3 linked regions of the Homo sapiens genome follow. The protein of the gene in region 1 binds, or shares a complex with, the protein of each later gene. Each region holds a gene or a part of one and is shown in the gene's direction. Other genes may lie near its edges.

Region 1 (7,597 bases):
TTAGTGTTTATCAGCAAATTGCCCTTTAAATAAGCTGTACTTACTAAGTAACTTAATTCCCAGCAGATTATGAGTTACCTCTTTCCTGTACTACTACTACTAATGATAATAATACTTCTATAGTGGATACTATGAGCAGGAAACTTGTAGGTGCTTAAAATACGTTAATTTATTTGATTATCAAAATAGTCCATCATTTTATAAATGAAGAATACTGAAGTACAGAAAAGTTAAGTTATTTGCCAAAGTCATGCAGTTTACAATCAGAGGTAATAGAACCAGGATTTGAACTTAGGCAGTCTTTATTGACTATGTCTAGATTGGATATTATATTGGTCTTTTAAATTTTATAGACAAAAAGTATTTCACAGTTACTTTAATTTGTATTTTTTTATTTAAAGGAGATAACATATTTTTTCTTCCTTTTCTCCCTTTCTTCCTTCTTTCCTTTTTCTTTTCATTCTGACTTTTTTTTTCTTTTGTAAGATACTGGTTAACATCCTTTGCCTATTTTTCCCTTGGAGCGTTCATTTTTTAAAAATTTGTAAGAAGTGTCTGTATGTCATGGATAGATCTCATGCGTTATATATGTTGCAATTTTTTTGTTTGTCTTTAACTGCTTAATTTTTATTACATTGTTGATATATAGTTTAAAATTCTTATTTAATGAAATCTATTAATTTTTTCCATCCATGATTTTTCTTTGTCATTTTCATCAGGTTACCATCATGCCTAGCTTATGTAAATATTTGCCCTAATATATTTCTGCAAATTTTATGATTTCATTTTTTAATCTAGAATTTATTTTGATATTTAACTTAAAAGTTCATTGATGGCACTCTTTCCACCTTTTCAAAACTGTTATGAGGTTGTTATTTTTCTCATTCCTGTCACTGCAGTGGGATTTGGTAAAGAGAGAGGGTAAAAAACGTAAGCTCAGCAGCCACTATGAACAAGAAAGCTGATTTTTAAAATAACTAGTTATTTACTTTCTTGTAACCCAGGCTGGAGTGTGGTGGCATGATCAAGGCTTACTGTTCGGGGGTTATTATTTTTCTCATTTCTGTCACTTCAGTGGGATTTGGTAAAGAGAGAGGGTAAAAAACGTAAGCTCAGCAGCCACTACGAACAAGAAAGGTGATTTTTAGAATAACTAGTTATTTACTTTCTTGTAACCCAGGCTGAAGTGTGGTGGCATGATCAAGGCTTACTGCAACTTTCACCTCCCAGGCCCAAGCGATCCTCCCACCTCATCCTCCCATGTAGCTTGGATTATAGGCACTAGCCATCAAGCTCAGCTAGTTTAAAAAAAAAAAAATTGTAGAGATGGGGTCCCGCCATGTTACCCAGGCTGTTCTTGAACCTGGGCTCAAGGAATACGCCTGACTTGGCCTCCCAAAGTGTTGGGATTACAGGCATGAAACACTGCACCTGGCCTTGTTCATTTTCTTACATGTCTCTTACATGGTTTGTTAAGATCTTCTACTTCTGGAATATATTTTGGCCATATCTATCTTCCTAGAAATGTAGTCATCAGGGCTTTTTTTTTTTTTTTTTGTCATTAGCCAATCTTTTTACAACGTATTTCTTTTTTATTAAAAAAAAAATCTCCTTCATCTGTGACTAAATGTATTCACACAATACTAGTTCGTATATTTTTCTTGGTGCTTTCTTTGTTTCAGCTAATTAATGCTGTCCTTTTCCCTAATGAGGATACGTATGTTCTACTACTAAAATGTTAATTTTATTTCATTGTAACTTAAAACATTAAAAGTAATATATTTTGAAGTAAAATGTCAAAAAATCACAATCACATAATTTTTAAGGTAAAGAAAGATAATGCAAAGAAGTGTGTTTCTGGAAGGTTTCCTCAAGAGGGTGAGTATGGTTTTGCCCCTCTGATGTGTATTTTGGTGAGGGAATTGTCAGCCAAGACAATCGCCAATTAATAAAGATTTGTGTATTTGACTTGATTCTTCAAATACTTTCTTAGATTTACTTAACAAATTTTATTTTTTCTGTTTGTTAATTCATTAATATTTGCTTTTATCATTCTATAGCTGTCACCTCACTTCCCTCCTTTTATTTTCCGTTGCCTTCTTTATTCGAATGCCTACTTCCCTTATTTTCAATCTGTTGTTTGATATTTTAAGTCTTTGAATGTATAAATTTGACTCTGAGTTCATCCACATAGTACTTAATAAATGAAATAATATTAAACTGGACCTTGATACAAATGCAGCTTCCAGTGCACCACTTATTTCAGTAGGTTTGGCGTGGGGCCTAGAAACATGCATTCTTAACAATGTTCTCAGATCACACGTAGAAAAATCCTAGCATTAGTATTGCTGTATATGCTCTCATTATCATTATTTTTGTAAATTTATTCTAATAAGAACATTGCACTTTGCCCCAAAAGTATTCAGTTATGTTTTAATAATCAAATGGTTGGTTTTTTGTTCATACTTTGATTATTAATATCTAGCTTTATTCTATGGAAATTAAAGATTACCTATAATATTTTCATATTCTCACCACCCATAATTAACTATTGCTGATATTTTATCATATTTGCTTTCATTTTAAAGATAAAAAGCATTTTTACATATTTAAGTTCCCTTTACTCACTATCCTGTATCCTATTCCATTTCCTCTTCCTCATGGGTGCAAGTTTGGTATATTTCTAAAAGAATATTTCAAATATACATAAGAATGTATTAGAGTGCTGTTTGGCATGTATTAGGTTGGTGCAAAAGTAATTGCGGTTTTTGCTATTACTTTCAATGGCAAAAACCATTGTATAATAGTAACAATTCGTTACTTTCAATGGCAAAAACCGCAATTACTTTTGCATCAACCTAATACTAATTAATTTGGCTTTTTAGATCTATACATATTAACATATTTAAAGCTAGTCATCTTTTTACCTCTGTATTTTATTAATTATATTAATAAAATAGAGAGGTAAAATAATATTAATTCTTCCATTTCTCCATCGATGGATATAACATACCTGTATATATATATTTTTCTTATCTTCAGATTTATTAAAGTATTTGTGACCTAATGACTTTGAAATGCTGTTAAATGTTGAAAGCAGTGGTGCTTTGGTGGATGCTTGGTAGAGGGTGGGGGTTGGGGAAGAATTTTCTGTGTGGTTTAACCTAGAGTTAGAAATATATAGATAAATTTGAAATTATTTCTTCTATTTTTCAAGTTCTCTTTCTCAGCATTGCTACATCTTTATTGCTCTTACTTAATCTGTAATTAAATTAGGTAAATATGTCAATGTTTGCCACTACTATTATGTGCCTGTCAATTTCTACCCATACTCTTCCCCAAAATACCTTTCTGTAGTGCATACTTACAAAAATCATCAGAAAATTCAAAATCTTATGAAAATAGAAAATAAGAATTATTCATAATTTCAGCAAACAGTACTAACAGCCATTAACTTATTTGTGCATAGCCTTCCAGATTTTTTTACACATACGGTTTACATATACAACAAACTGTTCAAAAATTGCTTTTAAAATAAAAATATATTTATTGTATTTTTGATATTGGAACATATATTCTTATATAGTTTGTAACTGTACAGAAATATACAAAGGCATAATTGAAAATACTCTGTGATTTCCCTATAACTACAGTTTATTTCATGTATACCTTTAAAGACACTCTATATTTTCTTGTATGGTAATATGATAATGTGCTCAACTAATCTCATGTAAACAGATAGTTAATATATTTAAATAACATTTTAAAATGCTACAATGTATATACATTTTATACATAAATATTTTTGCATCCTCATCCGATTATTAGGCGAAGTGTCTAGGTTAGGCATTTCTAAATAAAGGTGGAAACATTCAAAATGCTGATATATATTTTCAAATTGCCCTATGGTTGTAACAATTCACACTTCAGCTAGCCTGAGAGGGCATTTTTTAGGGTCCCTGTCAACAAGAAGGTTTACCATTATTTTTTTCCCTGCCAATATGATAAGCCAAAAGTAGAATTTTATTGTTTTAACTTGATTTCTTTTTATTAGTAGTGAAATTAATCATCCTTTTTTAATGTCTATTGGCCATTTGCACTCCTTTTGTAAAATGCACGCTCCTGCTCTGTCTTCTTCCCTTCCCCTACTGGAGGTGTTCCTCTTTTCTTTTTGCTTTGTCAGAGTTCTTTATTATTCATTTTTCGTCTTATACGTGGGATCTGTTCGATTCAGGCTTTCACCCTTTTACTGCCTTACAGATTGCTAATATACATTCTCCATTGGTCTTTTAATGTCGTTTACAGAAGCTGACTCTCTACCGCCTCCTTCTCTCCGTCTCACCCTCTCTGCCTCGCCTGCTCTGTACTGTTCTGTTCTCTTCTCTCTCTCCCTTTGTTTCTCTCTCTCCCTTTTTTCTTTTCAGTGCAGAAGTTTTTAATTTTGACCGAGCCAAATCTATCAATCTAGGCCTGGCGCCGCGTCAGCAGAGGGGGCGGGGAGGCGAGCGCGGAACTGGGGGAGGGGAAGGGGCGGGGATCAGCAGGCGGAGCGGCTGCCAGAGTTGCTGGGAGTGCGCGCGGTCGGATCACAAGGCGGCGGCGGAGGAGGCCCAGAGACCGGAGCGCGGAGACCTCAGCCAGCGGCCTACGCCCAGGCCTTTCTCCACCGGAGGACCAGGGAACCGCAGTCTTCATCACAGAGGTACCGTGCTCCGCGCTCCCCGCCTGACCCGGCCCAGCCCGCTGCGGCGGTGCCTCCTTCCTTCCTCCTTCCCTCGCGCTCTCTCTTTCGCCCGCCCGCGCCTTCCCTGCCCGCCTGCGTCACCGCGGCCGCCATGGCTGAGAATGGCGAGAGCAGCGGCCCCCCGCGCCCCTCCCGCGGCCCTGCTGCGGCCCAAGGCTCGGCTGCTGCCCCGGCTGAGCCTAAAATCATCAAAGTCACGGTGAAGACTCCCAAAGAGAAAGAGGAGTTCGCGGTGCCCGAGAACAGCTCGGTTCAGCAGTTTAAGGAAGCGATTTCGAAACGCTTCAAATCCCAAACCGATCAGCTAGTGCTGATTTTTGCCGGAAAAATCTTAAAAGATCAAGATACCTTGATCCAGCATGGCATCCATGATGGGCTGACTGTTCACCTTGTCATCAAAAGCCAGAACCGACCTCAGGGCCAGTCCACGCAGCCTAGCAATGCCGCGGGAACTAACACTACCTCGGCGTCGACTCCCAGGAGTAACTCCACACCTATTTCCACAAATAGCAACCCGTTTGGGTTGGGGAGCCTGGGAGGACTTGCAGGCCTTAGCAGCCTGGGCTTGAGCTCGACCAACTTCTCTGAGCTCCAGAGCCAGATGCAGCAGCAGCTTATGGCCAGCCCTGAGATGATGATCCAAATAATGGAAAATCCCTTTGTTCAGAGCATGCTTTCGAATCCCGATCTGATGAGGCAGCTCATTATGGCTAATCCACAGATGCAGCAATTGATTCAGAGAAACCCAGAAATCAGTCACCTGCTCAACAACCCAGACATAATGAGGCAGACACTCGAAATTGCCAGGAATCCAGCCATGATGCAAGAGATGATGAGAAATCAAGACCTGGCTCTTAGCAATCTAGAAAGCATCCCAGGTGGCTATAATGCTTTACGGCGCATGTACACTGACATTCAAGAGCCGATGCTGAATGCCGCACAAGAGCAGTTTGGGGGTAATCCATTTGCCTCCGTGGGGAGTAGTTCCTCCTCTGGGGAAGGTACGCAGCCTTCCCGCACAGAAAATCGCGATCCACTACCCAATCCATGGGCACCACCGCCAGCTACCCAGAGTTCTGCAACTACCAGCACGACCACAAGCACTGGTAGTGGGTCTGGCAATAGTTCCAGCAATGCTACTGGGAACACCGTTGCTGCCGCTAATTATGTCGCCAGCATCTTTAGTACCCCAGGCATGCAGAGCCTGCTGCAACAGATAACTGAAAACCCCCAGCTGATTCAGAATATGCTGTCGGCGCCCTACATGAGAAGCATGATGCAGTCGCTGAGCCAGAATCCAGATTTGGCTGCACAGATGATGCTGAATAGCCCGCTGTTTACTGCAAATCCTCAGCTGCAGGAGCAGATGCGGCCACAGCTCCCAGCCTTCCTGCAGCAGATGCAGAATCCAGACACACTATCAGCCATGTCAAACCCAAGAGCAATGCAGGCTTTAATGCAGATCCAGCAGGGGCTACAGACATTAGCCACTGAAGCACCTGGCCTGATTCCGAGCTTCACTCCAGGTGTGGGGGTGGGGGTGCTGGGAACCGCTATAGGCCCTGTAGGCCCAGTCACCCCCATAGGCCCCATAGGCCCTATAGTCCCTTTTACCCCCATAGGCCCCATTGGGCCCATAGGACCCACTGGCCCTGCAGCCCCCCCTGGCTCCACCGGCTCTGGTGGCCCCACGGGGCCTACTGTGTCCAGCGCTGCACCTAGTGAAACCACGAGTCCTACATCAGAATCTGGACCCAACCAGCAGTTCATTCAGCAAATGGTGCAGGCCCTGGCTGGAGCAAATGCTCCACAGCTGCCGAATCCAGAAGTCAGATTTCAGCAACAACTGGAACAGCTCAACGCAATGGGGTTCTTAAACCGTGAAGCAAACTTGCAGGCCCTAATAGCAACAGGAGGCGACATCAATGCAGCCATTGAAAGGCTGCTGGGCTCCCAGCCATCGTAATCACATTTCTGTACCTGGAAAAAAAATGTATCTTATTTTTGATAATGGCTCTTAAATCTTTAAACACACACACAAAATCGTTCTTTACTTTCATTTTGATTCTTTTAAATCTGTCTAGTTGTAAGTCTAATATGATGCATTTTAAGATGGAGTCCCTCCCTCCTACTTCCCTCACTCCCTTTCTCCTTTGCTTATTTTTCCTACCTTCCCTTCCTCTTGTCTCCCCACTCCCTCCCTCTTTGTTTCCTTCCTTCCTTATTTCCTTTAGTTTCCTTCCTTAGCCGTTTTGAGTGGTGGGAATCAATGCTGTTTCACTCAAAAGTGTTGCATGCAAACACTTCTCTTTATTCTGCATTTATTGTGATTTTTGGAAACAGGTATCAACCTTCACAGTTGGGTGAACAAGTGTTGTCCTACAGATGTCCAATTTATTTGCATTTTTAAACATTAGCCTATGATAGTAATTTAATGTAGAATGAAGATATTAAAAACAGAAGCAAATTATTTGAAGCTCTCTAATTTGTGGTACGATATTGCTTATTGTGACTTTGGCATGTATTTTTGCTAGCAAAATGCTGTAAGATTTATACCATTGATCTTTTTTGCTATATTTGTATACAGTACAGTAAGCACAATTGGCACTGTACATCTAAAAATATTACAGTAGAATCTGAGTGTAATATGTGTAACCAAAATGAGAAAGAATACAAGAAATGTTTCTGGAGCTAGTTATGTCTCACAATTTTGTAGAATCTTACAGCATCTTTGATAAACTTCTCAGTGAAAATGTTGGCTAGGCAAGTTCAGTTAAAATATAGTAGAAATGTTTATCCTGGTATCTCTAAGTATACATTTAATTGTACAGAAAATTTACAGTGTAACATTGT
Region 2 (7,221 bases), on another chromosome or scaffold:
TTAAGCTCTCTGAAGGTGGCACAGAACATAAAAGGGGGAAAAATTAGCAGTTACGTGCGAAAGAAGTGTTAAGAGAATGTTTCACTTCAGCACAAGGACCTAGATGCATGAGAATGGTCTGTTTTTGAGAACAAGGAAGAGATCATGATGAGAATATTGGAATAAGTATAGTTAGAGGCAATATTGGGAACCCTGAAATATTTTTTGCCCCAATAGGATGTGATACAAAATAATTGAGAGACTAACAAAGTTCCATCAGAATTAAACAGAGGATTGGCCAAGTCCAGTGGCTCACACCTGTAATCCCAGCACTTTGGGAGGCCAAGATGGGTGGATCACTTGAGGCCAGGAGTTCAAGAGCAGCCTGGCCAACAATGCGAAACACCATCTCTACTAAAAATACAAAAATTAGGCCAGGCGCGGTGGCTCACGCTCGTAATCCCGGCACTTTGGGATGACGAGGCGAGCAGATCATCTGAGGTTGGGAGTTCGACCAACAGGGAGAACCAGCATGACCAACATGGAGAAAACCCATCTTTACTAAAAATACAAAAAATTAGCTGGGCGTGGTGGGTGCACGCCTGTAATCCCAGCTACTTGGGATGCTGAGGCAAGACAATCGCTTGAACCTGAGAGGCAGAGGTTGCGGTGAGCCAAGATCGAGCCCTTGCACTCCAGCCTGGGCAGCAAGAGTGAAACTCCTTCTCAAAAAAAAAAAAAAAAAAAAAAAATTAACCGGGCATGGTGGCGGGCGCCTGTAATCCCAGCTACTCGGGAGGCTGAGACAGGAGAATCGCTTGAACCCAGGAGGCAGAGGTTGCAGTGAGCTGAGATTGCACCATTCATTGCACTCCACCCTGGCAACAGAGTGACACTCCATCTCAAAAAAAAAAAAAAAAAAAAAAAGAAGAAAGAAAAAGCAAGTACTTGGATTGGAAGAGGAATGGGGGATTCTCAAAGTTTCTTTTCATTTTTCTTTTCTTTTTCTTTCTTTCTTTCTTTTTTTTTTTTTTTTTTTTGAGACAGATTTCACCATGTTGGCCAGGCTGGTCTCAAACTCCTAGCCTCAAGTGATCCGCTCACCTCGGCCTCCCAAAGTGCTGGGATTACAGGCGTGAGCCACTGCATTCGGCCCAGATTCTCAAAGTTTTGAATTTGATTTTCCCACAGCCCCAGCCAGTCCTCCTTTTGTCTGGATAAGGAGAAAACTTTTTTCCCTAATAGGAATTGGAGGTTAACATGTTTTAGGCATAAATGTTCTGCATCCCTGACCTTGTCACTCAGAGTGTACTCAAAACTACTGAATGGGTGGTGTAGATAATCCTCTTATGATCAGAGGGTCCCTCTAGCGGTGAGCAGCGACTAGTGCTTATTCTCTAGCTATATGCTCTAATTTATATTCAGATACAAGTAGGGTCTATTAGTGTAAAACTTCTAACTAAAAGAGAAATTAAAATCATAGGATAATAAAGTTGGAAATCGTCATCTGGTCTGATATTTTACCCTTAAGCATGTCAATCTCAGCTATTCTGAGATGTATTCAGAGATGAAGTCTCATTCTTTATTAGTTTTGTTTTTCTTTTTTTGAGACGGAGTTTCACTCTTGTCGCGCAGGTTGGAGTACAATAGCACGATCTCGGCTCACTGCAACCTTTTCCTCCCGGATTCAAGTGATTCTCCTGCCTCAGCCTCCAGAGTAGCTGGGACTATAGGCACCCACCACAATGCCCGGCTAATTTTTGTATCTTTAGTAGGATGGGATTTCACCATGTTGGCCAAGATGTTCTCGATCTCCTGAACTTATGATCCGTCCGCCTCGGCCTCCCAAAGTGCTGAGATTTCCCAGCCTTGGTTTTCTTTTTTAGTCTTGCTCTGTTACCCAGAGCAATCTCAGCTCACTCTAGCCTTGACTTTCTGGGCTCAGGCGACTTTCCTACCTCAGTCTCTCAAGTAGCTGGGACTACAGGCTGGCACCATCACAATCAGCTAATTTTTGTATTTTTTTGTAGCGACGGGGGTATCCAGGCTGGTCTCGGACTCCCAACCTCAAGTGATCTGCCCACCTCGGCCTCTCAGTGCTGGGATTACAGGCGTGAGCCACCGTGCCCAGCTGGCCTTCTTTTTTTCATTATGGGAATTTCCAAACCAAAAGTAGAGTAGTATGGTGAACCACTATGTACACATAACCCAGCCTCAATAATTATCAACATAAATAAGACCAGCGTGGCCGGGTGCAGTGGCTCAAGCCTGTAATCCCAGTTTTCGGAGGCTGAGATGGGAGGCCAGGAGTTAGAGGTTGCAGTGAGCTATGTATGATTGCACCACTGCTGCACTCCAGCCCAGTGAGACCTTGTCTCTTTTGTTTTACTTTGAGACCCTGTCTCAAAAAACAAAACTATTTGTTTCTTCCAGAGGATTAAGTTAAATCCCAAACTTCATATACTTTTTTTATCTATGAATACAACATATAACCCTTAATAAAGCCTACTTTTATAAGGGTGATAACTTTAACACTATTATCATGCCTAAAAAAATTGCTTAATATCAAATATCCAGCTGATGTGATGGCTCACGCCTGTAATCCCAACACTTTGAGACTTTTTTTTTTTCAGAGATGGGGTCTGGCTATGTTGCCTACGCTGGTCTCGAACTCATGCGCTCAAGCCATCCTCCCACATCAAAAAATTAAAAACAAATTAGCTGGGCTTGGTGGCATGCACCTATAGCCCCAGCTACTCAGGAGGCTGAGGCAGGAGGATGGCTTGAACCCGGGAGGTGGAGATTGCAGTGAGCCGAGATCAGGCCACTGCACTCCAATCTGGGCAACAGAGCGACACCCTGTCTCAAACAATAAAACTTTGTAGAGACGGAGTCTGGCTGTGTTGTCCAGGCTGGTCTCAGACTCCTAGCCTGAGTTGATCCTCCTGCCTGGGCCTCCCAAAACGCTGGGATTATAAAACCTAAGCCATTGCATCAGGCCTTGAATGTAATTTTTGATTAACCAAAACGGTTTAGTGGTTTGTTCTTTGGCAGATTAGTTAATATAATTGAGTTGTCAAATCTTTTCCGGGCTCTGTACTGGGCTTAGGGAATTGTAAAGATTAAGACACGTTGCCGGCCAGGTGTGGTGGCTCACGCCTGTAATCCCAGCACTTTGGGAAGCTGAGGTGGGTGGATCATCTGAGGTCAGGAAATCGAGACCAGCCTGGCCAACATGGTGAAACCTCGTCTCTACTAAAAATACAAAATTAGCCGGGCATGGTGGAATGCCCCTGTAGTCCCAGCTACCTGGGAGGCTGAGGCAGGAGAATCCCTGGAACCCAGGAGGTGGAGGTTGCAGTGAGCCGAGATCGAGCCACTGCACTCTAGCCTGGGTGAAAGAGCGAGACTCCTCCGTCTCAAAAAAAAAAAAAAAAAAAAAAAAAAAAAAAAAAAAAAAGGCACGTTGCCCACCCTTAGTTAAACGAGGGAGGAGATAAATATACAAATAAATTCAATTGAAGGGTATAAGGGCTTGTTGAATTAAAATTCTACAGGGAACTGAGGGCTGTAGAAAGTCATTAGCGATCCCGACACTTTTTTTTTTCTTTTTTTGAGACGGAGTCTCACTCTGTCCCCCAGGCTGGAGTGCAGTGGCGCGATCTCGGCTCACTGCAATCTCTGCCTCCCGGGTTCAAGTAATTCTCCTGCCTCAGCCTCCCGAGTAGCGGGGATTACAGGCGTGCGCCACCATGCCCGGCTAATTTTTTGTATTTTTAGTAGAGACAGGGTTTCACCATGCTGGCCAGGCTGGTCTCGAACTCCTGACCTCGTGATCCGCCCGCCTTGGCCTCCCAAAGTGCTGGGCTAACAGGCGTGAGCCACCGCGCTCGGCCGATCCCGACACTTTTTTAAAATGCCGAAGCCGGAATCGACACAGCACTTTCAAAGGTTCCTCCATAGCTCCCCTGAGATCCGGCCAGCGGGAAACCCCAACTGAGAACTGCAATGGCAGGGAAAGTGGAGGCTAGATCCTGTTTTTTGTGTTACCGCGATTCCCTTCAACTACCCTCAAGACGCCTACAAATTTGTTTGGCGGCACCTACAACTCCCAGAACGCAACGTGGGGGACGGAGGCGGAAGCAGCTGGCCAAGCCGAGGTCTGTGATTGGTGAAGAGCGACGGGCCAATTGGAGGAGTTGTTGTTAGGCCGTCCCGGAGACCCGGTCGGGAGGGAGGAAGGTGGCAAGATGGTGTTGGAAAGCACTATGGTGTGGTGAGGAGCTACTTCGGGGCAGGAGGGGCAGAGCTGGGTTCCGGGCGCGTGTAGCGCCAAGGCAGGGAGGGCCTGGGGTGGGGGCCAGGGGCTCATGGGCGAGAGGCGGCCCTGGCCCCGGAGGTAAGGAGCCCGCTGGACTCCCTGAGTCATCCCGGGGCCCTGGAGTGGCGGATAGTCCCGGGTTACCACTGTTACCCCCAGGGGGACGGTCATTGACTGGTCATTCCTGCTTCCTTTCTCTGTTCTAGCGCCGTCTTCTCTAGAGCAGCCCGGGTCTGTCTTTAGCTACAGTTCTGCTTTTCGGACTCATCGTAATAGTTTTCTGCCCTCCTTTCTTTGCAAAATAACGTCTATTAGGAAAATAGATTATTAATCCCTTCCTCTCCCCATTCCCTCGTCTCTAACTTCATTACCTTTCCCTGTATCATCTTCAAAGGTACCATTTACAGATTGCTTTTTATGTATCAGTCATTTTGTTTATCTCACTTATACCTCACAACCACACCTTAAGGTAAATTATCTCTCCATTTTACGGTTCAGGATACCGAGTCTCAGCGATTTTAAGTGATTTGTCCAAAATCATACAGCTAGTTAAGTGGTGGAGTCAAGATTTAAACCCACGGCTGTCTGACACAAAGGCTTTATCCGGTGAGGTAGCTCTCTTTGTCAGTTTCAGGCTTGGGCTGAGTACCTATTACGAGTCACATTAGAAGAGGAGGACATAAATTTTTGCAGGGTTTCAAGAGTTCCTTCTAAGTGTAATCACTGAATGTAATACAGAATAGTTGACGAACACAAATCACCGATTGGGTGAAACAGGCACCTATGAGATTTCTTCTTTTTATTTTCTCGGGGGAGCATAGCATTGCCAGATAACATACAGGATGCCCAGTGAAATTTGAGTTTCAGATAAACGATGAATAATTTTTTTTTGAGACGGTCTCGCTCTGTCTCCCGGACTGGAGTGCAGTGGCCCAGTCTGGCTCACTGCAGCCTCCGCCTCCCTGGTTCAAGTGATTCCCAGTGATTGAACTAATTTACACTTGCACCAACGATAGAACAGTGTTCTCTTTTCTCGCAACCTTGCCAGCATCTGTTATTTTTTTAGTTTTTAGTAATAGCCATTCTGACTGGTGTTAGGTGGTATCTCGTTGTGGTTTTGATTTATTTGCATTTCTCTAATGATCAGTGATATTGAGGTTTTTTTAATAGGCTTGTTGGCTGTATGTATATCGTCTTTTGAAAAGTGTCTGGCTGGGGCGTGGCTCAGGCCTGTAATCCCAGCACTTTGGAAGGCTGAAGTGGGTGTATCACCTGAGGTCAGGAGTTACTGACCAGCCTGGCCAACATGGTGAAACCCCATCTCTACTAAAAATACAAAAATTAGCCAGGCGTGGTGGTGGACGCCTGTAGTCCCAGCTACTCCAGAGGCTGAGGTGGGAGAATCGTTTGAACCCCGGAGGTGGAGGTTGCAGTGAGCCGAGATGGCGCCACTGCACTCTAGCCTGGGCGACAGAGTGAGACTCCCTCTCAAAAAAAAAAAAATAATAATAAAATAAATAAATAAATAAATAAATAAATAAAAATAAAGTGTCTGATGTCTGTTCATGTCCTTTGCCCACTTTTTTTTTTTTTTTTCTCTTTGAGAAGGAGTTTTGCTCTTGTTGCCCAGGTTGGAGTACAGTGGCGCCATCTCAGCTCACTGCAACCTCCGCCTCCCTGGTTCAAGTGATTCTCCTGCCTCAGCCTCCTGAGTAACTGGGATTACAGGTGCCCGCCACCACGCCCAGCTTTTTTGTATTTTTGGTAGAGACGGGGTTTCATCATGTTGGCCAGGCTAGTCTCAAACTGCTGAGCTCAGGTGATCCACCCGCCTCAGCCTCCCAAAGTGCAGGGATTACAGGCGTTGAGCCACTGTGCCCGGCTCCTTTGCCCACTTTTTTTTTTTTTCGCTCTTATTGCCCAGGCTGGAGTGCAATGACACAATCTCAGCTCCCCGCAACCTTCGGCTCACCGCAACCTCCGCCTCCCGTGTTCAAGCGATTCTCCTGCCTCAGCCTCCTTAGTAGCTGGGATTACAGGCATGCGCCACCACGCCCAGCTAATTTTGTGTTTTTAGTAGAGACCAGGTTTCTCCATGTTGGTCAGGCTGGTCTCGAACTCCCACCCTCAGGTGATCCGCCCGCCTCAGCCTCCCAAAGTGCTGGCATTATAGGCGTGAGCCACTGTGCCCGGCCGGTCTTCCAGGATTTTTATAGTTTTGGGTTTTACCTTGTCTTTAATCCATCTTCAGTTAATTTTTGTGTATGGTATAAGAAAGGAGTCCAGCTTCAATCTTCTGCATATGGCTAGCCTAGCCAGTATCCCCAGTTATTGAATAGGGACTCTTTTTCCTCACTGCTTGTTTTGTCAGCTTTGTCAAAGAATAGATGGTCATAGGTGTGCGGCTTTATTTCTAGACTCTCTATTCTGTCCCATTGGTCTCTGTGCCTGTTTTTGTACCAGTGCCATGCGGTTTTGGTTATTGTAGCCCTAAGTAATAGTTTGAAGTTGGGTAAAGTTGCCTCCAGCTTTGTTCTTTTAGCTTAGGATTGCCTTGGCTTTTCTGGCTCTTTGTTGGTTCCATATGAATTTTCAAATAGTTTTTTCTAGTTCTTTGAAGAATGTTTTTGGTAGTTTGATAGGAGTAGCATTGAATCTGTAAATTGCTGTGGGAAGAATGGCCAATTTTAATTAATTAATTAATTAATTTATGAGACAGAGTCTTGCTCTGTCTCCCAGGCTGGAGTGCAGTGGTGTGATCTCGGCTCATTGCAACCTCCGCCTCTCAGGTTCAAGTGATTATTGTGCCTCAGCCTTCTGAGTAGCTGGGATTCCAGGCACCCGCCACCATACCTGGCTTTCTTTTTTTTTTTTTTTTTTTTTTGTATTTTTAGTAAAGATGGGGTTTGGCCATGTGGCCA
Region 3 (7,747 bases), on another chromosome or scaffold:
AAAGATGCCAGCAGAACGCACTTATTTTATAATATTTAACAACTGTCAGTGCCAAACTGCATTAACACAGTCATCCTCAGATTTTTCAGAGGGCTGTGTACACATCTGTGAAAATAAATGTTAACCTCTAAGATTTGAATGAAGATTCTCTGAAGATGGGCAGCAGGTGACCTTTGTTTTACACTGAGCAATTTTTCACCATCTCAGCCGCTCTGGCCATTTTGAAAAGGGCTACAAATCTGCTAAGGATGAGTCCTCATGCCTGGTTATCAGAAGTTTGGACCGCGTGTTCCTGAGGATTGGCCAAGCAAATGGCTCATTTCCAAAAACTGCCCTGTGGAGAGGGGGCTGGGGGACACTCGTGACACCTGTCGGGCGGCACATGTGATGGGTGGAGCACCCAGGTTCTCCAAGCAGCAGGAGGCTCTGATGGACCCCCCTCCCCTGGCGGGGGGACGCTACTGCTAGAAGCAGCGAAGGGCCCGGTGCCCCAGGTTTCAGCTGCCTGCCTTCTGCCGTAAGTTGCCCCAGCACCTTCGTGCTTTTCAGGAGCGTAAGCTGAGCAGACTCAGTCGTCCCAGTGGTCAGTGTGGCTGGGGCAGAGGGACACACGGTCCACAAGACGTCCATGCTCTCGGAATGCTCCAGGGGTTTGGCTGTGGGGCTCCACCACCATTGCCTGAGCCCGGAGCCAGAGGCTCCTCCCACACTGCCTGGTCTGCCCCACAGAGCATCAGTGCCACGCCAGGTGAGGACAGCGCTCACCAGACAACCAGGCCTGCCGCCCCACTGACGCTGACTTCCGGACCTGCAGAACTGTGAGAAAGTACGTTTCGCTTCTTTGTAAACTGCCTGGTCAGTGGTGGCAGCACAGATGGACCGACGTGGACCTCGACGCGAATGGCGGGCTCTGGGCGCTGACCCGGTGGCGGCGTAGCTCACCGAACACCCAGGGGGACCAGAACTCTCTGCCTTCCACTCAGTTGTGACTTGTCTATTTTTAAAATGTTAAAAAAAAAAAAAACCCACAAGGTGCAGTGGCTCACACCTGTAATCCCAGCCTTTGGGAGGTTGAGGCGGGTGGATCGCTCAAGCTCAGGAGTTCGAGACCAACCTGGCCCACATGGTGAAACCCTGTCTCTAATAAAAATACAAAAATTAACCGGGTCTGGTGACACATGCCTGTAATCCCAGCTACTCAGGAGGCTGAGGTAGGAGAACTGCTTGAACTCAGGAGGCGGGGGCTGCAATGAGCTGAGATCAAGCCACTGCACTCCAGCCTATGGGATAGAGTGAGATTCCATCTCAAAAAAAAAAAAAAAAAAAAAAAAGTTTAAAAAACCCTACCCCTGCCAAATGCTTTTCCGAAGTAGCCGTGCCATTGGTGTTTCCAACTTTGCCTGGCACCTTCCATCGTTTGCTAAGTTCCAGCAGGTGTATTTCATTTGCATTTCCCTCATGAATAATGGTGTTGAGCAGCTTGCCATGGTGCCTTTGCTGCCTGTGACCTCTTTGGTGAAACATCCGGAGGTGTCTTCTGCCCACGTGGAGGCGCAGCCTGGGCTCTGCCGCCCACCTTTCACCCGAGGAGCCTGCAGCACGTGGAGAGCATCAGGGTGTGCTTTCTTTACAGTTTGGGGCTTTTTTGAGACAGGGTCTCGCTCTGTCACCCAGGCTGCAGTGCAGTGGTGCCATCACGGCTCACCGCCAGCCTTGACCTTCACCTCAGCCTCCCAAGTAGCTGAGACTACAGGCATGCACCGCCATGGCTGGCTCTTTTTTAATTTGTCTTTTTCTAAAGACAGGGTCTCACTGTCTTGATTAAGCTGGTCTTGGAACTCCTGGGCTTCAAGGGACCCTCTCAGCTCGGCCTCCCAAAGTGCTGGGATTGCAGGTGTGAGCCATCATGCAAGTCTGGGGTTGTTTTTTTTTTGCTAAACAGGATGAATAGAAATCTCTTTTGGGGGATCTCTTAGTCCAAATCCTTTAGCTGAATGCGCGTGTCCCGGTGAGGCTGCTCCTCTAGATGCTGCGGGCATTTTGCAGACGTCCCACCAACTGCCATCAGCGACCAATTAGAAGATAGGGACAGCTGCACATGTCACACAGCCCTTCTGACCTTGTGTGTGCTTCAAGTCCGAGATTCCTGACACAAAGCAGCGTGTGCCCCCCCACCCACTCTGTGGCCACAGCTGGAGTCCTGGGCTGCTGGGTGCTCCAGGTGCCATACCCCACACACGCATAGAGCCCGTGGGCTGGCAGCGGGCACCCACAGTGGCCTCTGCAAAGCCTGCCTGGCTGCGGCTCGTTTCCTCACTGCAGCATGCTCATAGGAATGTGGGAGTTTCGCTTGAAGTGTGGGTAAAGAGTTCTGGGGTTGTTTGAGCCATCCCAGGCCACAGGGCCTCCAGGAAGTGGAGGAAATGGTAAATCCAGGGTCCTCTTGGCCACTGCGTTGGCCTCTGCACACTTGGCCCCTGCGGACCCTGGGGCTTCTGCTTTACTGTCTGTGACATAAACAAGTGACGCTTGCCACCTTCTTGCCGGGAAAGCCAGGCTGGGTTTTCTCATTTCCACCTTTTCCCTGTTTTACACGAGGGCACGAGGATGGGGCTGCAGTATCAGTGACGCACCTGTCACCAGCGGGCCACAGAGCTTTGTGTTAGCCCCTCTCAAGCCCTTTAGCTTCTGGAACCGTTTAAATTCTTAAAAATTATACAGGACCCCAAAGAGCTTTTGTTTATGTGAGCTTTATCTATTGACATTTACCATACTAGGAATTAAGAGGACATTTAAAATTATTTAGCTACATAAAAATAACAATAACAAACTTACTACCTGTTAACACACATTTTAAAATGAAAAGTGGCTACATTTTCCAAAACAAAAAACGTGAATCTTTAGCTCAATCAATGTTTCAAATGGAAGCATTATGACAGTCAAAAGCTGGCAACTAAACATAACTGGCACAAGCTCTGCCACCGAGACAATGGAGGCCTGAGTAGTAGGCTCCCTGCAGAATGAAAGGACTGGAGCTGCCAGCATCAACACCAACGCATCTCCCAACAAGGGTGAGTGAAAACACACACCTAAAGACCTCAGAGAGCACGTAAGCACACAGCTGTGCATCCACTCTGAGGGTGAGCCACCAAGCACACGGTGACCCCGGGGAGCGCCCGAAGGGAGTGAAGTATCTGAAGGAAAGAAGGAAGTGAGCGATGGGCAAAGGAGAACCTGAGGACCCTGGCACAGTCTCAGCTGCAAACATCTAGTCTTGCTTAACTGGGGTGCAGAGGCCACTGCACCTCAGGGTTCTCACGAAGCGCCTGACCTCTCTATTTTATTACTATTATTATTATTATTTTTTTTTTTTGAGAAGGAGTCTTCCTCTGTCGCCCAGGCTGGAGTGCAGTGGTGCAATCTCGGCTCACTGCAACCTCCACCTCCCGGGTTCAGGCGATTCTCGTGCATCAGCCTCCTGAGTAGATGGAATTACAGGCATGTGCCAGCATACCTGGCTAATTTTTGCATTTTTAGTAGAGTCGGGGTTTCATTCACCATGTTGCCCAGGCTGGTCTTGAACTCCTGGCCTCAAGTAATCCGCCCGCCTCGGCCTCCCAAAGTTCTGGGTTTACAGGCGTGAGCCACCGCGCCTGAGCCCTCTAAGAGCCCCCGCCTGGCGTCGCTGTAGGCAAATCCCAAAGAACGTGTCCCTTCAGCAGCCGGCTGGGGCGCCACAAACACTATCTGTTGTCTTCGCTTTAGTTTGTGTCAAAGTGACTCAAAGTTACACAACACTGGCGGGCGACTGCCGCCTTTTTACCCTGTGGCCTTTCCCATCCAGGCGTCCAGAGGGTGAGCCCCTGCCCTCCAGGACCCCTCCCTTCCAGGACCCTACCCGTCTGGGACTCAGGCCTTCCCTGACTCCTCCCTCCCGGACTCACCCCTCCCAGATCCCTCCCCTCCGGGACCCTCTCCCCTCCCGGGCCCCCTCCCCTCCGGGAACCCCTCCCCTCCCGGACTCACCCCTCCCAGATCCCTCCCCTCCAGGAGCCCCTCCCCTCTCGGGACCCCTCTCCTCCCGGACCCACCCCTTCCTGACCCCTGCCCTCCCGGACCCCTGCGGGACTAGATGTATACAGCTGAGACCATATCACGGTTCTCACCCTCGCTCTACCCTCCCGGACCCCTGCTCTCCCGGACGCGTGGACTCCAGCTCCCGCCTGGGTCCCCAAAGCGCTGAACCCATGGTCACTTCTATGCGTAGCCCTGGTGCCCGCCGCCCACAGCCGGACCGCACTCCTCGGCCTCCGCCTAACCCCTGGCTCAGCCACACGAGTGACAGCTCTGCCCGCCCGGGCGGGCGACGCCGAGGGGTGGGCTCGGCCCCACCTGAGCAGTTCCCCAGCGCCCCTCTGAAACCCGCCTGTGGTCCCTGGCGCCGCCTCTAGGGGCCGCCGCCGCTCCCCTATGACACAGCAACAATAGGGGCCGCTCTGGTCCAAGCGCCCTGCGGCCCGCGCTTCCGCCGGAAAAGAGCCGCCGGCGCGGGGGCGGACCGGGGAGGAGCGAGTGCGATGGACGGTCGCCCTCGCCAATCGTTGGCAGGTTAGAGCCGGCTGCGCGGCTTACGGGGCTCAATCGGCGGCGAGAGCGGCAGGCGGGGCGGGCCGAACGCGGGTTTCCGGCGGGGCCCGGCAGGCGCCGAGGAGGAAGAGCGAGCCCGGACGGCGCCTCTCGAACGAGTGTGGGCGCGAGGCAGGTGCGGGAGTCGCCGGGCCTGGGGCGGCCGGGGGCGACCGGAGGCGGGGGCAGGGGCTGCTGGACCAAGGATGGGGCGGGGGCAGCCAAGACGAGAAGGTGGCCGGCGCGGCGGGTGGGGCCTGCGGGGGCCGGGCCGGGCGGGGGTTCTGGGGTCTCGGGCGCCGCCCCGGTTCCGCCTGCGGCTCTGAACGTGGGGCTCGGCGGGAGCTCGGGCGGGTCTGCCCCGCGGAGCGGGTCGCCGGGGTGGCGCGTCGAGGCTGGTGCCCCGCGGAGACGGCGTCAAGCCTAGGGCCGGCCCCACTAGGCTTGGCGGGGCTGCCCCGGCCCAGCGCCGAGTGCGGGCGGTGCGATCGTCGTGAGCGGGGCAAACGCGGAAAGGCAGCCCGGCGTGTCTGAGTCTGCCTTAGGCAGCTCTGGGCGCAGGCCCCCTGCTCGCAAACACCCCAGGGGGCGGGAGCTTGCCGGACCGCAGGCGACAGTGACCGCCGCGTCTCAGCGTCCTCTCCGCGCTTTCAGGATGACGACCTCAGGCGCGCTCTTTCCAAGCCTGGTGCCAGGCTCTCGGGGCGCCTCCAACAAGTACTTGGTGGAGTTTCGGGCGGGAAAGATGTCCCTGAAGGGGACCACCGTGACTCCGGATAAGCGGAAAGGGCTGGTGTACATTCAGCAGACGGACGACTCGCTTATTCACTTCTGCTGGAAGGACAGGACGTCCGGGAACGTGGAAGACGTGAGTGTCCCTGAGCCGCAGCAGCAGGACAGGCGACTTCTCGGGCCCTCGGAGTCCTCGCTTTGGAGTTCGCGGTGGGGGCTTGGCCGCATCTGGGGACCGCTCGTGGGGCCGTCATCGACTGCCCTGCTGATGGGTCGTCCTGGTTTCCGCGGTGACAGGGGCATCTCGGCCACTGTGTATCTTGAACTGTCCGTGTGAGGTGCCTGGGTTGGAGGTGTGGCCCTGGAGAGCCCGGAGCTCTGTGCCTGGCCTTGAACTGTCCGTGTGAGGTGCCTGGGGTTGGAGGTGTGGCCCTGGAGAGCCTGGAGCTCTGTGCCTGGCGGCTTCACTCAGTCTTCTTTGTTTTTCAAACTCTTAGTTGTTCTTTGTTACATTTGAGAGCAGTTCAGCGTTGACTTTTTAACTACTCTGGGAATGTTGTTTCCAGCACGTCTCAGAAACCCCGTTGCCATCTGAAAGGCCCCTTTCCCTGCTCTCTCCCCCGGCCTTGCCTTTCATGGGCTGTCTCTGACCCTGGCTTCTCTGCCTTGTGGAGACCCTGCCAGCGAGGGGTCTGGCGGCTTAGCTGCCCCTTGCGCACCCCACCCGGTTAGACCCAGGGCTCAGTACGCTCTCCTGAGACTGGGCACAGTGATGCCATCTGCGCCACTGACTCTCTCTTCCCCTGGCTTGCCAGGACTTGATCATCTTCCCTGACGACTGTGAGTTCAAGCGGGTGCCGCAGTGCCCCAGCGGGAGGGTCTACGTGCTGAAGTTCAAGGCAGGGTCCAAGCGGCTTTTCTTCTGGATGCAGGTATGGGGCAGGCCTTGGGGTTGTGCCTTTTTGTTGCCCTGCGATTCGGTTAGGAACTTGCTTACAGTGTGGTGCAATTGGCTTTTATAAACCAGCAGGCGCCGGCCACACCCGGCCACACGGCCTGAGATGCCACCTCAGGGCTGCGGTGCATGCTACCTGGGGCCGAGGTCCTCTCCCAGAGTACGGAGGCTCCAGGCTGGGCTGCGGGCAACCGATTGCGGTGTGAAATTTCCAGGCAGACAGACATGCTGGCCCTGGTTCTAACGATGCCCAGTGCCCTCTCTCTGCCCCTTGCCGTGGGTCACTGAGGCCCCCACAGCAGAGGCAGAGGCCCCTGTGTGGCTTCCCTGCTGGTGCTCACAGAAACGAAGCATCCTGCTCACACTTTCCACAGTCCTGCCCCTTCCCTGGCAGTGTGTCCTGGAGGCCAGGGGTGTCAGTGCCCAGGGTTTCTCTTACCCACAGCTGCAGAGCGTCTTTTGGGTCTAGAGGCCGCTGCTCATTCTGCCATCTGTCAGTGACCATTGAGCTTGTTGCCGTTTTTTGTGCTGTTACAGGCAGTGTTGCAAAGAATTTCCCGGTACACAGATCATTTTCCATAAGCCAGTATCATCTGTAGGTGAAAACTGGTGGCGGGCCTGTGGTCAGGAAGCGTGTGCATGCGTTTGCAGTGTGGAGAGAGAAGGCCATGCTCTCTGCCAGAGGTGGAGCTGCTGTCCCCACCCCACCCCCCTTGGCACTTTCAAGAGCAGGGGTGGCCCTGGCTGAGGTCTCTGTGGAGCACATGGTCTGTGTTGCTGGTCACCTGTGCAAGTAGTGTGCAGCGGCCTGAGAAAATGAACAGGCATAGCCAAACTCCAGTTAAACTTTATTTGCAAACACAGATGGCGGCCACAATTTGCCACCTGCTGGTGTAGAACGTGTTTTTCCACGGTTTTGCCAAGAAATAGTGTCCAACTGTTACCACCATCTCCCTTTTTTCCCCGATTTTCCTGTTGGTGGCTTTTAAGTCCCCCGTCCCTGCTTTGCCATGAGAGCAGGGACTCCCAGTGTCCCTGGCGCCCTGCAGCTTCCATAGCCATTCGGGGTGTGCGTGGGTGCTCTGCTCCCAGCTCTGTGAGCTCGCAGGTCGATGCTTCTGACACTGATCTGTGCACATGTGTGTGCACACGCGTGTGCTCGATTGTGAGCGCCTGCCGTGGCCCTGGGCCGCGGTGTGCTGAGCGGGCCAGTTCGCTGCCTTCCACTGGTTGAAGGAAGGAGACGGGTGTGTAAAGAACCGCACCCCAGAGGGCAGGAGGGTGAGAGGGCTTGGTCTGGCAGCAGCTAAGTGCCTTCGGAGCTCTAGGCTCCCCATTTGTGAAATGGGCGGAGGGGGACAGGGCACACCCGGGATTGCGGCGGATGGGGACAGGGCGCAGAGCATCGTGCTCAGGAGGCGCCACTGCCGTCCC

The links.
Region 2: the proteins of UBQLN2 (region 1) and PSMD4 are in contact, whole or in part, in an NMR structure (PDB 6MUN), measured with the Homo sapiens proteins. Residues at the interface, in NP_038472.2 of Homo sapiens: Lys38 (codon at 4,947), Ile75 (codon at 5,058), Phe76 (codon at 5,061), Ala77 (codon at 5,064), Gly78 (codon at 5,067), Lys79 (codon at 5,070), Ile80 (codon at 5,073), Asp94 (codon at 5,115), Gly95 (codon at 5,118), Leu96 (codon at 5,121), Thr97 (codon at 5,124), His99 (codon at 5,130), Val101 (codon at 5,136), Lys103 (codon at 5,142); in NP_002801.1 of Homo sapiens: Asp213, Glu215, Leu216, Ala219, Leu220, Val222, Ser223, Met224, Glu226, Gln227, Arg230.
Region 3: the proteins of UBQLN2 (region 1) and ADRM1 are in contact, whole or in part, in an NMR structure (PDB 2NBV), measured with the Homo sapiens proteins. Residues at the interface, in NP_038472.2 of Homo sapiens: Lys38 (codon at 4,947), Ile75 (codon at 5,058), Phe76 (codon at 5,061), Ala77 (codon at 5,064), Gly78 (codon at 5,067), Lys79 (codon at 5,070), Ile80 (codon at 5,073), Leu96 (codon at 5,121), Thr97 (codon at 5,124), His99 (codon at 5,130), Val101 (codon at 5,136), Lys103 (codon at 5,142); in NP_008933.2 of Homo sapiens: Asp54 (codon at 5,441), Ser55 (codon at 5,444), Leu56 (codon at 5,447), Asp72 (codon at 6,174), Leu73 (codon at 6,177), Ile74 (codon at 6,180), Phe76 (codon at 6,186), Pro77 (codon at 6,189), Asp78 (codon at 6,192), Asp79 (codon at 6,195), Phe98 (codon at 6,252), Lys99 (codon at 6,255), Ala100 (codon at 6,258), Gly101 (codon at 6,261), Lys103 (codon at 6,267).

What each region holds. Positions count from the first base shown.
Region 1 is NC_000023.11:56,559,039-56,566,635, forward strand, and holds the start of UBQLN2 (ubiquilin-2), read left to right. Parts: upstream 1-4,588; 5' UTR 4,589-4,835; coding exon 4,836-6,710; 3' UTR 6,711-7,597. UniProt on the Homo sapiens protein: Plays an important role in the regulation of different protein degradation mechanisms and pathways including ubiquitin-proteasome system (UPS), autophagy and the endoplasmic reticulum-associated protein degradation (ERAD) pathway.
Region 2 is NC_000001.11:151,250,554-151,257,774, forward strand, and holds the start of PSMD4 (26S proteasome non-ATPase regulatory subunit 4), read left to right. Parts: upstream 1-4,180; 5' UTR 4,181-4,229; coding exon 4,230-4,255; intron 4,256-7,221. UniProt on the Homo sapiens protein: Component of the 26S proteasome, a multiprotein complex involved in the ATP-dependent degradation of ubiquitinated proteins.
Region 3 is NC_000020.11:62,298,288-62,306,034, forward strand, and holds the start of ADRM1 (proteasomal ubiquitin receptor ADRM1), read left to right. Parts: upstream 1-4,709; 5' UTR 4,710-4,762; intron 4,763-5,280; 5' UTR 5,281-5,281; coding exon 5,282-5,494; intron 5,495-6,173; coding exon 6,174-6,290; intron 6,291-7,747. UniProt on the Homo sapiens protein: Component of the 26S proteasome, a multiprotein complex involved in the ATP-dependent degradation of ubiquitinated proteins.